Linked DNA regions of Homo sapiens: region 2 is linked to region 1. Evidence: fine-mapped expression QTL. A gene starts in region 1. The other region holds a variant in brackets. All regions are shown on one strand. Distances are between the middles of the regions. Region 1 holds the start of STK40 (serine/threonine kinase 40). Region 2 overlaps STK40 (serine/threonine kinase 40).

The links. PIP is the estimated chance that this variant, and not a neighbour inherited with it, causes the effect.
Region 2: its variant is fine-mapped to the expression of STK40 in whole blood (TOPMed, PIP above 0.99).

What each region holds. Positions count from the first base shown.
Region 1 is chr1:36,384,626-36,387,377 of GRCh38, forward strand. STK40 (serine/threonine kinase 40) reads right to left here and starts at 1,299. Exons shown (of 11, transcript NM_001282547.2): 1 at 1,098-1,299. LOC124904012 (a long non-coding RNA gene) reads left to right here and starts at 1,566. Exons shown (of 2, transcript XR_007065779.1): 1 at 1,566-1,702; 2 at 1,794-2,752. RefSeq lists silencers at 457-506, 807-876, 1,027-1,406 and enhancers at 1,613-2,752, 1,637-1,746, 1,777-2,146.
Region 2 is chr1:36,340,471-36,343,474 of GRCh38, forward strand. It overlaps STK40 (serine/threonine kinase 40), which reads right to left. Exons shown (of 11, transcript NM_001282547.2): 10 at 2,894-2,978; 11 at 1-1,503. The coding sequence ends at 1,285. Among named protein-coding and RNA genes, the nearest start is that of EVA1B, 18 kb to the left of the region's middle. The variant C/T (reference allele first, on the strand shown) is at 1,410.

The sequences.
Region 1 (2,752 bases):
AGCCTACTCTTAACCACTATGCTGTCTAGCACTTGCCTCTAGGCAAGGACTCTTGTTGTGGTCATGTGAGAAATGAATGAATGAATGAATGAGGACTGTCTAGATTAACCCAACCAACAACTTGCACAGCACGGCCATTAGGAAGCACTAAAGGAGCTCACAGGCACTGTTTACAAACAAGATTATTTTGGCCCTACAATTACACATTCTGCTCTTCCTTATCTCACGCAAAACTACTCAAAGAGGGAAAGGCGCCCAGCCCAGTATGCCTACCCTCTTCCCCACTGGTTCTCAAAACCAAAGCAAAGCCAACCGGTTTCCTCCAGTGACTTAAAACAGAGCAAAGTCTATCCTGCCACACAGAGGGCGGCTGTCATCTCTTCCTTCCGCTAACAAAAGGGCTTCAAACCTGGGGATTGGGGTGGGCAGAAAACTCGGCATCAGGAATCCGAATGTCCCTACCTAACTGGCTGGAAGGCGGGGCCAAGTGGCGTGGGAATGGGCGGGCCTGACCGGCTCGGCAGGTGAAACACTGACCACAGCAAGCTCTCCTTGGAAAAGGCCGGCCAAACGTGGCCTTGGCAAGCAGGTAGCTGTGACTCGTACCTGAACGCCGCCCGGGATATGAAAATTCCCCAGCAGCGGTAGCGCCCGTGCCAGAGTGAGGGCTCTTGGAGGAAGCCCTGGCTGGCCCTCCCTGGGGACTCGTTCTAACTATCAAGTCACCCTCGGGATTAGGAGGGAAACACGGAGAGGCAGAAGGTGTCTTTTTGGAAAGATCTGGCTGGATTCACACGCCGGTTGCTTCACTCACTGGCTGGGTGACTCTAGGCAAAGCTGGCAGTGCCCACTTCCCAGAGCTGCGGCGGGGACTGAAGCTCCCGCGGCCTCCCGGTACCCGGCGCGAGGCAGCCCTCGCCCCTGCCGCCGGGGAAGGGCAGAGCCCCAGCGGAGGAGGGGGCATTCGCCGGGGCCATTTCTGCTGCACTCAGATGGCTTCAGGCTGTCACTCCGATTCCACCGCCGCGGCCGCCGGGGCCCGCCCCGCCTACCCGCAACCCCCACCCGGCTCCCCGCTCCTGGACCCCTGCCCTCACCTTCGCCGGGTGGTCAGAGCTATTCGCCCATAGTCCGTAGCCCAGAGCCGGGGCTGCTCGGCTCTCCCTCCCGGGGGGCCGGGGCCGGGCTGGAGGCGTGCGAGCCTCTCACCGCCGCCTCCCAGCGCAGCCACCCGAGCCGCCGCCGCCGCCGCCGCCGCCTCCCTCCATGGCTGCGGCGCCGCCACCTGACAACGGAAGTGACGCACCGCCCCCCTCCTCCCCAGCCTTAGCCGCGGCCCCGCCCCCCCGGGCCCCGCCCTCCGCCTGCGTCTCCAGCCCCACGGCTTTCGGATTGGGGCGCCATCTTGACGATGGGCGGAAGACTTCAGGCAAGAGGCCAGAGTCCGATTGAGGATTGGTTCAGGGTGGGGTCTGGGCGAAACCTGTTACACGATTGGAGGCCGAGGCTCTAATGGGGCGGTACTTACTGCTGATCTATATCTGCGGCGAGGCTGGGACGGAGGCACCGCCCCGCCCGACCCCACAGAACCTCGCGGGCCCTACACTCCCCCTGCCGAGGTTGAAGTCCCCAGCGGTTGGAAGATCGGCCAATTGTAGTGTATTTATCAGAAAAGTGACTCATCCTTGATCCTCATTTCCCGGTTTGTGGAACTCTGTGAGGAAAGCCCTGCAGTTAGGCTCAATAAAAGACAGAAATTCCTGTCGCAGCGCTCATAATTCATTTCCCTCTAGGTCTGTCGCCTTTGTAGAAACCCCGAGGATGGCAACCTTCAACCTGGAGATCCCTGAAGCCTTGACCAGGGAGGTTTACAGTGAAGCGTTCCTATTAGCGACTACAGCTATCTAACCTCAGTTCCTCCTGCTGCAGTTTCGGTCCCTTTCTCCTCCTCCTCCAGCAACCACGCCCTCCATGAATCAGCTTCTTGCACCAGCAGATGAGCCCTTTAAAGGGATTGCATCAGGCAAGTGACTCACTGGGGCCCTCTAAGAGCCTGGCTTCCCTCCCTTGGCATGCAGAAGCAGCTAGAAGGGCTCAGTGGCAGCAGCACCAGCGGCCGTAGCCCCACTCCCTTGTCCCAGAGGTGTGAGTCAGGGTGTTTGCTGCTTATGATGTCTAACTCTTGGCTGTCTTTCCAGCTGTCCCCTGGGTCACTCTATATCCATGTGTGGGCACACGTGTCTAAGCTTGTGTGCACTGCTGGGTTTTCCTAGGGTGTGTGGCCACTTGTGTGTATGTGCATTTGTCATCTCCACATAGGCAGTGCCAGGACACAAGAGCTGATATGAGTGAAGTCTGGCTGCCTCTACCTGTGTCCTTTGTCTCTGAATGCCTGGTGCCCACTGAGCTGCTGATAGGGCTGACTAACAAGAGTAATCAGGACAGCTCCCACCGTTGTGCCACACTCTGCATGGAGCACTTGAGACAGTATTAGGTAGGAGGCTGTTTACAGCTGAGGAAGCCAGTGCTCAGAGAAGGAAATTAATGTGCCCAAACACACACAGCTAATAATGGCAGGGCTAGGATTCAAATCAAGTCTGATGGATTCCAAAAAACTTGGCTTTGAATCCCTGCTGCATCACTTACAAGCTGGGTGACTATGTGCAAATTGCCCAATCTTCCCCTTCTGTCCAAACAGGGATAACGCTTGGGGGATCACTGTGAGGACTCGGAGTTATAGAAACAGCTTTTT
Region 2 (3,004 bases), 44 kb before region 1:
GACACTCAGCCTCTCTGAGGACATATGGGGGGTAGGCCTCTGGGGAAGGGTCTTTGCTTGGCATCAGGCAGGGCCAAGTCCAGTAAGGGCAAGGGGAGGGGGCATTCTGGTGAGAACAGCATTTCTGGCAAGACGGGCATCCACTTCAAAATCTCGGCTCAAAAGGGCAGCAGGGCTGTTCTCAAGCCAGGCAGGCAGGGTCCCCCAATCCCTACAATTCTCCTGAGTCCCTCACCACCATGGAGGACCCTTGCTAGGGTCTACCGGGAGAGTCACCACATCTATTATGAGGCAAGGGCACTGGGATATGTTCCCACCATCCCCTAAACACAAGAGTAGGCTAGGGGAGCGTGCAGGCAGCCCCCGCTCACGGCCAGGCCTGCAGCCCAACCCATGGGCCCCTTCGCACTGGGAGTCCACGTGAGCTCAGTACCACGGGGAAGGATAGAGAAGGGAACAGGTTAACGCGCGTGTACAGCACCTCAGAGAAGCCACTGAGACGGGAGAGAAAGAGCCAGGTCTAGAAAGGCCTCCCATCACCGGCAGCAGAGAGGGACTGGTGGGCTGAAAGGGGACAGGGACTGGCAGGAGGGGCTTCCCTGCCTGGGGGTGAGGAGGGAGCTCACGTGTGGGCTGTGGATTCCTTGCTGTCCAGCCAGGCTGGGGGCAGGGAGTGGCCATGGACTGAGCCACCTAGAGATGGGAGAGAAGTTGGTATGGTAAAAAAATAAATATATTTGAGTTCGGTTTAAGATGAGGTGAAGGTTTTCCAAAGCTTGGACTGAGGGGCCTGGATCAGAAAGAGAGGGACGGAAAGAGGCTGTGGCAGGGGCCTGGGAGAGCAGGGAGGAGGGGAAGCTCGCTCTGGGGCCTGCAGCGAGCTGCACTTTCAGCTTATTTGGACTGTGGGGAGCAGCGCCCCAGGTCAGTTGGTGGCCGCTGGGGAAGGCCCTGGAGTGGGGTGAGCAGGCTCCCTCCTCCCTCTTGCTCAGTCCAGAGACAGCATGGTTAAAGAGACAGAGGTAGATTAAAACATCGTGATTAAAAGCAGATTAGTTATCTAGGCTTCTCAGATTTAAAAACCAAACAATCGAGCAATCATCCCAAAAGGTAGCTTCGTGGTACCTCTGCTGACCCCACGTGTGACCTGGGCTGTCCCTGTCCCTGCCCTGTCCCTATTGTGGCCCGGGAGAGTCCAGCACTACAGGGCCCAGCCCTGACAGCCACGCCTTTGGCTGGGGCTGGAAGAAGTGGCAGCAGTGCTGGTGGCCCCGGCTGAGGCTGTTATTTCCGCAGGTAGCGCTGCGCCAGGATGGCCGTGTCCAAGGAGGTCATGGGCTGTGCGTCGTGGCCCAGCCGTCGCACCGGTGGTGCGCTGCCGAACTGCCGCTTGGGTACCCAGCTCCGGG[C/T]GTCATGGATGGAGCTCTTCTCCTCGGCCAGCAGCAGCTGCTGACGCATGTAGTTCTCAAACTCGTACTGGGAGCACTCCTCCGTCACCTTCGCCTTTGAGGCGGGGAGGGTGGGAAGGAGACAAAGATAAACCCAGATGAAGGCAGCGCAGCAGACAGGAGGGCAGGCAAGAGTGCTGGCAGCCTGGCTCCTGCAGTCACCCTTCCAGGCACCACACCCTCAGGCCTCAAGGCCGGGGGTGGGAGTGGCGCTGAGGGTGGGTCCCTGACCCCCTCCAGCCAACCTCAACTCCCCTTGCAGGCCGCCCTGCGGACCCGGGACTGACGCAGACTCATGCTTCCTAACTCACTGGCTGCGTGAGAGGTCACTTTACCTCAGAAGCCTTAGCTGTCTGGCCCCTCGCAAAGGTTCTCTGAGCCCTGAGGCGGCTAATGCACGTCAAGAGGTACGAGCAAGCCCTGGGCTGGGGGCGCAGCACCTGGAGGAGCCACATACGCAGGGCCCCATGCTGAGCTCCCTGGGATGGTCTAGGCAGATGGTAACAGAAGCTGAAGTGGTGTCCCCGTGCCAGTCACCACAGGAGACAGCAGGGCTTCCGGATGAGACTTGGGTTCAAGGCTTAGCTCCACTACTTCTAAGCTGTGTGGCTTTGGGAAAGTCCTCTCTAACCCTGTTTCCTCTTCTGTAACATGGGGCTAAGAACACAGGCCACGCAGGCCCGCAGTGAGGGCTGAATGAGGTGCCCTCGGGGTAGGCACTCACTGCGGGCTAGTGATGATGATTTTAGCCAAACAGCTAAAGGGTGGAAGCTGGAGGTGGGTAGGGATTGGAACTCTCTTTCCTCGGGGGCCAGGAGGCTCTGGGAGGCTCTCCCAGGCACGGCCCCTCCTGGTCCTACCTGCACACTGCTCACTGTGGAGCTCCAAGGTGGGCCAGGGAGGGAAGGTCCTTCCAATATCCAGGGCCCAGCAATGCTGTTGCTCGGCCAAGCCCTGCCCTCCAGGGGGCACCCTAAGATCACCTGCCCTCTGCTGCCTGGTGCCCAAGTCTCTGCCCCCACCCTAGGCCCAACACTTTCTCCAGTGCAGGGAATGGGGAGGAAAGAAATAGGGAGAAATGAATCATCTGAAAAATGAAAAGCAGGAAGGGTGAGAGAGAACTCTGAGTCAGGGGGCAGAGAAATGTGACTTGGGCAGCAGGAGGAAGCTGAGAGGGCTGGCCTGGGCCACTTGGGCACTGGCTCCAGCTCGGCTGTCTCACAGGTCTCTCTGGCCAAAGATCTCCAGCTACACCAAGCCCAAGGCAGGCCCCAGGCAGCTCAGGCTGAGGACTGAAGTCTCCCTTTCCCACCCCAAGGCTGGGGAAGAAGACCAAGGAAACTCTGTGGCCTGCGGGTAGCTGCCACCTCTGCCCTTGCCCTGCCTGCCCCCAGAAGCCTGTCCCTTGGGGCTGGGTAATGGCCCATCTGCCCTCCCCAACTCACCTCCTGGGAGCTATCCGCATTGCTCATTTGGTCATCAATGTCAGGAACCACTTGCAAAGGCCCACTCAGAGATGACAGGGACTGCCTGCAGGGAGGCAGACAGGTCAGGCT